2 separate regions of the Homo sapiens genome follow, and region 2 is linked to region 1. The links come from fine-mapping of genetic effects on plasma protein levels. A gene starts in region 1. The other region holds a variant in brackets. All regions are shown on one strand. Distances are between the middles of the regions. Region 1 holds the start of CNTN2 (contactin 2). Region 2 overlaps NFASC (neurofascin).

Evidence for each region. A credible set is the group of variants that fine-mapping cannot tell apart. PIP is the chance, under the fine-mapping model, that this variant and not a neighbour inherited with it causes the effect. Protein levels are from antibody-based Olink assays in UK Biobank. Linkage for the fine-mapping came from a reference panel and not from the study's own genotypes, which makes the PIPs less certain.
Region 2: its variant is the best candidate, but not a certain one, in a credible set for the plasma level of the CNTN2 protein (UK Biobank, PIP 0.90).

Annotation. Positions count from the first base shown.
Region 1 is chr1:205,041,587-205,044,485 of GRCh38, forward strand. CNTN2 (contactin 2) reads left to right here and starts at 1,626. Exons shown (of 23, transcript NM_005076.5): 1 at 1,626-1,808. RefSeq lists enhancers at 1,320-1,464, 1,412-1,556 and cis regulatory regions at 1,392, 1,484.
Region 2 is chr1:204,988,787-204,991,685 of GRCh38, forward strand. It overlaps NFASC (neurofascin), which reads left to right. Exons shown (of 30, transcript NM_001005388.3): 23 at 1-20; 24 at 2,506-2,520. Among named protein-coding and RNA genes, the nearest start is that of CNTN2, 53 kb to the right of the region's middle. RefSeq lists an enhancer at 849-938. The variant C/T (reference allele first, on the strand shown) is at 1,644.

The DNA.
Region 1 (2,899 bases):
CAGCCCTCAGACATACAGATAGGCAAGGACAGTGTGGGCAGGGGAAGGAAGGGAAAGATATCCTGGCAAGGGGTTGATGTGTCTGTCTATATAACAGCATTCAACATTATTTAAGAAACATCATTAGCAAAATCCAAGTCCTCCCCATCAGGAACAAAGAAGACTATCTCTCAAGTTGGGCAAGCCCTTTGGAGGGGCTCAGAAGGAAAGGAGGGGAGCGCATGTGGGACCTGGGCAGACATTCCAGCCTTGGAGGCTGAGCAGCAGAACCTCCCCGACTCCTTCTCCTTTTCCAGACCCTCTCATTCTGGCCCAGGTCCCCAGGACCTCCTCCACTCAGGGAGACATGGAGCCATGATCCAGGCTTGACAGGTATAGCCATTTAAAACTGGGAGGCTGGCCTGGCCCTGCCAGCTGTTGCAGCATCTGGACTGCTCACCGGTCTTGCCTGTGCAAGCTGGACAGCAGGCAGATCAGAGGGGGGTGAGACAACAGTGACAGCCTGACAGGGCCGACTGGTGCCGCAGATGGCTGGTCCCTCCGCCTCCGGGCCACAGCCTTCCTGGGCACTCCCCCACGTGACCGGAGCAGGGCAGGAGAAAGGCATCGCTGACAAGGGTGAGCACTTAGAATCTCAGAGCTGGCAGGACTGTGTCCATCTTTAATCCCTTCAGGTACCAGCGAGGCTCAGAGAGGGCAGGGCACCTAGCCAAGCACACACAGCCAGTCGGTTGTGGAGCCCAGAGTATGCTTCAGACACCCAGACCCCTAATCCAGGGAGCTTTTCATGACATCACACTGCTGGTTGCTTAAAAATGGGATTGGATCCAAACGTACTGATGCGTAAAAGTGTCCAAGATCAGTTACACAGTTAAAAGTCTTTGGCCAATCCTACTGTTTTATGTAATCACATTTGTGTGAAATAACCCTACTAACCCATGTAATTGTATACACGAAAATAATAAACCTGGGGGCATGTACTTAGATTTATTAAGAGTAGTGGTTGAGGGACTTTCACTATGTATTTTTAAATGTCCTCTAATATTTAGATATTTTGACAAAAAGCTCAAACTACTTTTGAACAAGGGAAACAATAAAGAGGAACATGGGGTGGACCGGGCAACAGAGACAGCCCCTCCCTGCCACTTGCCCCACACAGCAAGCTGGGATTTCTGATTTGGATCTCTTCCTCGGATAGGGGATTTCTGGGGAAACCAGGAGTTTTGGCTCCATGGGTCTCCAGGGTTTGAGGAGTAAGAGCCACTTTCTTTTCCCTCTTCACCCCGCCCCTCTCCTGCCCCTTCAGCCCTGGGCAGGGGGACTAGAAGTGGGGCTGGGCAGGATCGGGAGGGCAGGCGGGCCAGACAGCGCCCCGCGGCCTGTCCATGAGCGGCCCATGCATTATGGAAGACGCGCGCTGGGCTCGCTCCCTGGTCCTTAAATGACAGCAAATGAGGTAAAGCCAGGAGGGTGGGGACGGAAGTGGGGTGGGAGGGGGGCAGAAGGAAGCCATCTCCAGGGCCCCCGAGCGTTGGCTGAGGACCAGAGCCAGCCAGTGAGCGGAGCCTGGGAGAGGGAGGAGCACATCTTGATGCAGAGATGCTGCAGTGGCTCCGGGCGCGCTCACACACACGCGCCCTCACCCGCCACCGCCGCCGCGGCCGCCGCCGCACCCGGACAGCGAGCGGCTGAGGCCGCCAGGGCCCAAAGGACAGCGGCCCAGACAGGGGCTGGCGGCCCGGCCGGCCCCGGCTCACCGACTCGGGCAGCATCCACCTGCCCCAGCCAACACCCTTCTCTCGCCCCAGGTAGGTGCCAACCGCTTTTGTCTCCTCCAACCCAGGGACTTCCCTGCGTGCTGTTATGGGCCGGGGCTCCCGGCTCAGTTCCTGTAAATATCCCCCTTGTAACTTGGGAGGGAACAGGGACAGGAACACTGGCAGGCTGGGGCCGTTCTGACTTCTCCCCTCAGCCCCAGGGTGGGTGCTGGGGCTCCCCTCCGCCCTGTCTACGTGGGCGGCATCCCGCAGGGCTCTCTCAGGCCGAGCCTGGCCGAAAAGCTGGACCCCAGGAGTGTGTCCAGGAATTCCAGTTGGCCAGCGGGCAGTGGCAGCTGCCTGTGGAGAGGGCAGTTTCTCCTGGGCCGGCCCTGGGCACCCGGTCCAGGACAGGACCAGTCCATACAGCCAGGCCCTGGGCCCTGGCCTGCCCCAGAAGTCCCTGCATGGAATTGAGCCGGAGTCCCCAGTTTTGAGGTCACCCAGGGTCTACCTCTGCAGGGTGACCTCTTTGCAAAGTCTTGCTTCAGCTGGATGGAGAGGGGGGCTGTGGAAGAGAGAGGGGAGAGTGGAGCACAAGTTTGGGCAAGGGCCTGTCCAGGAACTGGGACTCGGGGAGGAGAGTCCTGAGGCCAGTCACATCCCAAAGGGCGAGAGGCTGGGGCTACCGGGCTGAAATTCCTTTCCTTCCCTTCCCCCTCCCAACCTTAGCTTCTCCTCAAATCCCTCCCCCCCATCCTCACTGGTGGGAGGGAAGAATTTGCACAAAGTTTGGCTTTCCAGTAAGGAAAGGGGCTGGGGCCAGAATGGTATGGGGAAGGGAAGGGGCAGAGCTGGGGAGTTCTGGAAAGAGAGGGCAATCCTTCTGCCCAGCACCGTGGGGCTTACATAATGGGCTGGAGGTGGGGGGCAGCCCCAGCCAGTGAGTGTCCAGAGCTGAATCCTGTCACCTTCTCCAAGAGGGTCTCTCAGGTCTGGGAAGCAGCGGGGCATGGAGAAGGCAGTGCCTATGGAAGGGGAGAATCCTGCTGCTACTTGGGGATGGAGACGGGCACCCTCTAGCCCCAGACCCCTGGGGGTTGAGCCTGTGTCCTGGGGGGGGGGGTCCAGTGAGGCCAGGA
Region 2 (2,899 bases), 53 kb before region 1:
ACCAGCACCCCCGAATGAAGGTAGGTGCATGGCAGCAGCCCCTGGGGTAAAAGGTCCCAGCTAATTCCGAGGCCTAGAGAAACACTGAGATCTGTAGCTGGCTGCCTGGGATGGAGAGGAAATGAGACTTGCAAGTCCTCAAGCCCTCGGAAGGTGAGAACCCATCTTATGTGTGAGAGGTAGGTGCTGGCATTGTATCTGGAGCTCAGCTCTCCTTGGACCACTGTGGTCACACCTGGGTCCCCACTTGCCCTGACTTGCTCAGTCACTTGACATCTATCATCTTTCCTTCTTGTAGAGGAATAAGGAAGAGAGCATGAGTTGAGAAATGAGAGAAATCATAATGAACTCCAAAGAACAGTGAGTGTTCACCTCTTGAGGGAGGCAGGAATATGATTGTGAGTGCTCCCATGAGGGCTCTGGGGACAACCTTCTTTCTTCGAAGGCACATGGGTTCAAGGAGGTAGGGGAAACCGTCAGGATGACGCTGTTACTGGCATCATGAGTAGAGCAGAGAATGTGGTCCTTCCTTGCAGCCTGAATTGGATGCGTTGTCAGGCTGCAGAGAGGAGGAGGAGTTAGGAAACAGCCATTTGCCAAGCCAGCTTCACAAAGAGCAAATGAGTTCATCACCTGGGTCCAGGCGTCATCTGGCAGCATTTCAGCCCCACCAGAGCTGCACCTGCCTGAGGACTCCACTAGAGGGGGCTCCAGGCTCACCCGCACACGCACTGGCATCAGGGGAATGTGCAGTCTGGGACCTCTCGAGGAGGCAAGGCTGCAAAAGCCTCAATACTGGCACACCCTCTGGGAAAGGCTGGGGACCCCCGTGTGTCTCCAGAGATACAATGGTCTATTCAACAGCCATTTCTTGAGTACCCACAATGTGAGGTGCCAGACACTGCCACACACAAGGGATATACAAAGGTAACAAGAAGCTCACACCATCTAGAGGGGGAGTCATCTATAAGAATATCTAATTGCATGTCTAAATGAGGGGGCGCAGTGGCTGGGCAGAGAAGGGGATTCAGTCTTCACGGGAAGACTCCAGAGAAGAGGTGATGTGAGTGGGCACTCTGGAAGCTGACAAGTCATCGTGTCTGGTGCTTTCCACAGAAGGGTCAGGTCCCGTGGCCTGGCCCAGGCCCAGACGGGGTCTTCTGAATACCACCCCTACCCGCATTCCAGGAGAGCATCAGTGCTGCCTTCTCTGGGGCTACCAGGCCCGCTGCGTCACCCCGGGATCCCAGGCAGCTTCACAAGCTGCCCACATCCTTCCCCAGCCCACCACTCTAGCCAGTAGACCAGCGCTGAGGCAGGAGAAGAGGGGCCAGGCAGAAGCAGAGAAAGGCTGACAGCCCGCTCTGCATCCCTCTCTGGTCTCAGAAACCAGGAGTGAGTCACACAACCAGCTCTCCCTCCTGCTGTGCTCTTCTGCACTCTCCCAAGCCCCTGGGCACTCGGGAAGTTTATTAGGGCAGGGGGACTTAGGTTAGTGGCTGATGTGTGTCTGTCACCAAAGGCCAGGCCAGGCCAGGCCATGATGCACTTTCTTGATTACTCAATTCTGCAAATAGATAGATAAAGAGAGCCCCTTCTTCCCTCCCTATGTGCACCCCAATACAGAACATCAGATAACAAAG[C/T]CCTATTGTCCAGCCCCAGTAACCACCACAGAGAATGTTCTGCAGCCCCAGGGGACAAAAGGACAAATAGAGGCTTTTTTCTTAACTTAGGGCTTTGCAGAAAATTCAAGAATTTCACTTAGGGCTCTCAGTCCAAAAAAAAAAAAAAAAGAAAAAGAAAGAAAAAAGAAAGGGCTCTCAGTCCAAACTTGGGTTTCTAACTTCATAAAGTCCAACTGGAGGGGAAGAATTGGAGTGACGGAATACCAGGAGAGGGGCTCCAGGCTCCATCCTTCAAAGTTCCCGCCTTCCAAGGTTGCGATGGTGTGGAGTGGGTGCAGCTGAACATGCTCCCTCTCTCCTATCCATCCCACTATTCAGCATCTTCCCCCAAAGACAGGAACCATCCTTTTGACTGGAGTTGGTGTCCTCCCACACCACCTACTCCTTATCCCCTCAATTCCTGGCATCATGGAGCGTCACCCAGCCTGCTCAAAGGTCATGCCAACCTAGCCAGAGCAGGACATGCTGTTGAGGACAGAGCTGGGAACATAATGCTCTGAGTGGACTGTCCCTGCAGCCACCTTTTAGATGTCCAGTCCTTGAATCGAGGTAGAAACAGTGTGTTAGAAAGGTCTCCAAGGCCCAGGTGGAAAGGTTTCTGTAGGAACATGCCTGACTCAGGTGGAGTTGACCGTGAACCCTGAATGCCAGTTGGCATCCTCAGGCCAGCAGCCAGCACCTGGCCACGCCGTCTGCATAAGGTTTGGGCTGGAACCTTCCCTGCTTTCCTTGTCCTGTGGTCTCACTTGTGCTCTGTTTTCTCTTCCCTTTTCCATCCTTTCTCCCTCTGTCTGGCCATCTTGGGCGCTGTGTTCTGAAGCTACTCCAACCGCAGGTACCGTACCAGCCGCGGAGGTAATGGGCATGGCATGGGGCAGCGCAGGCGGAGCCCAGCCCAGCCAGGGCGGACAAGGAGGGAGAGGCTCAGGCTGAAAGCATGCTCCAGACTCACCCTTTCAGTGGTTGGGAAGCCAGACTGTCAAGAGGGATGTGTGTGGAGGATGGGACCAGAGGAGAGCAAGCCCACTTTCCCCCCTTCCCAAACTATTTGCCCCCTGCTGAGTAGGAGAATGGCTCAGCAGGGGTCACACACACACCGGCCCTGACCTGCTCTCTGGAGCTGCAGTTTCATTCTGACACTGAGTAGATTACTTCCCGTTAACCACCTGAGTCCTTGCCTGGGCTTGACAGCTCAGAGCAGTGTCCCCAGCTGT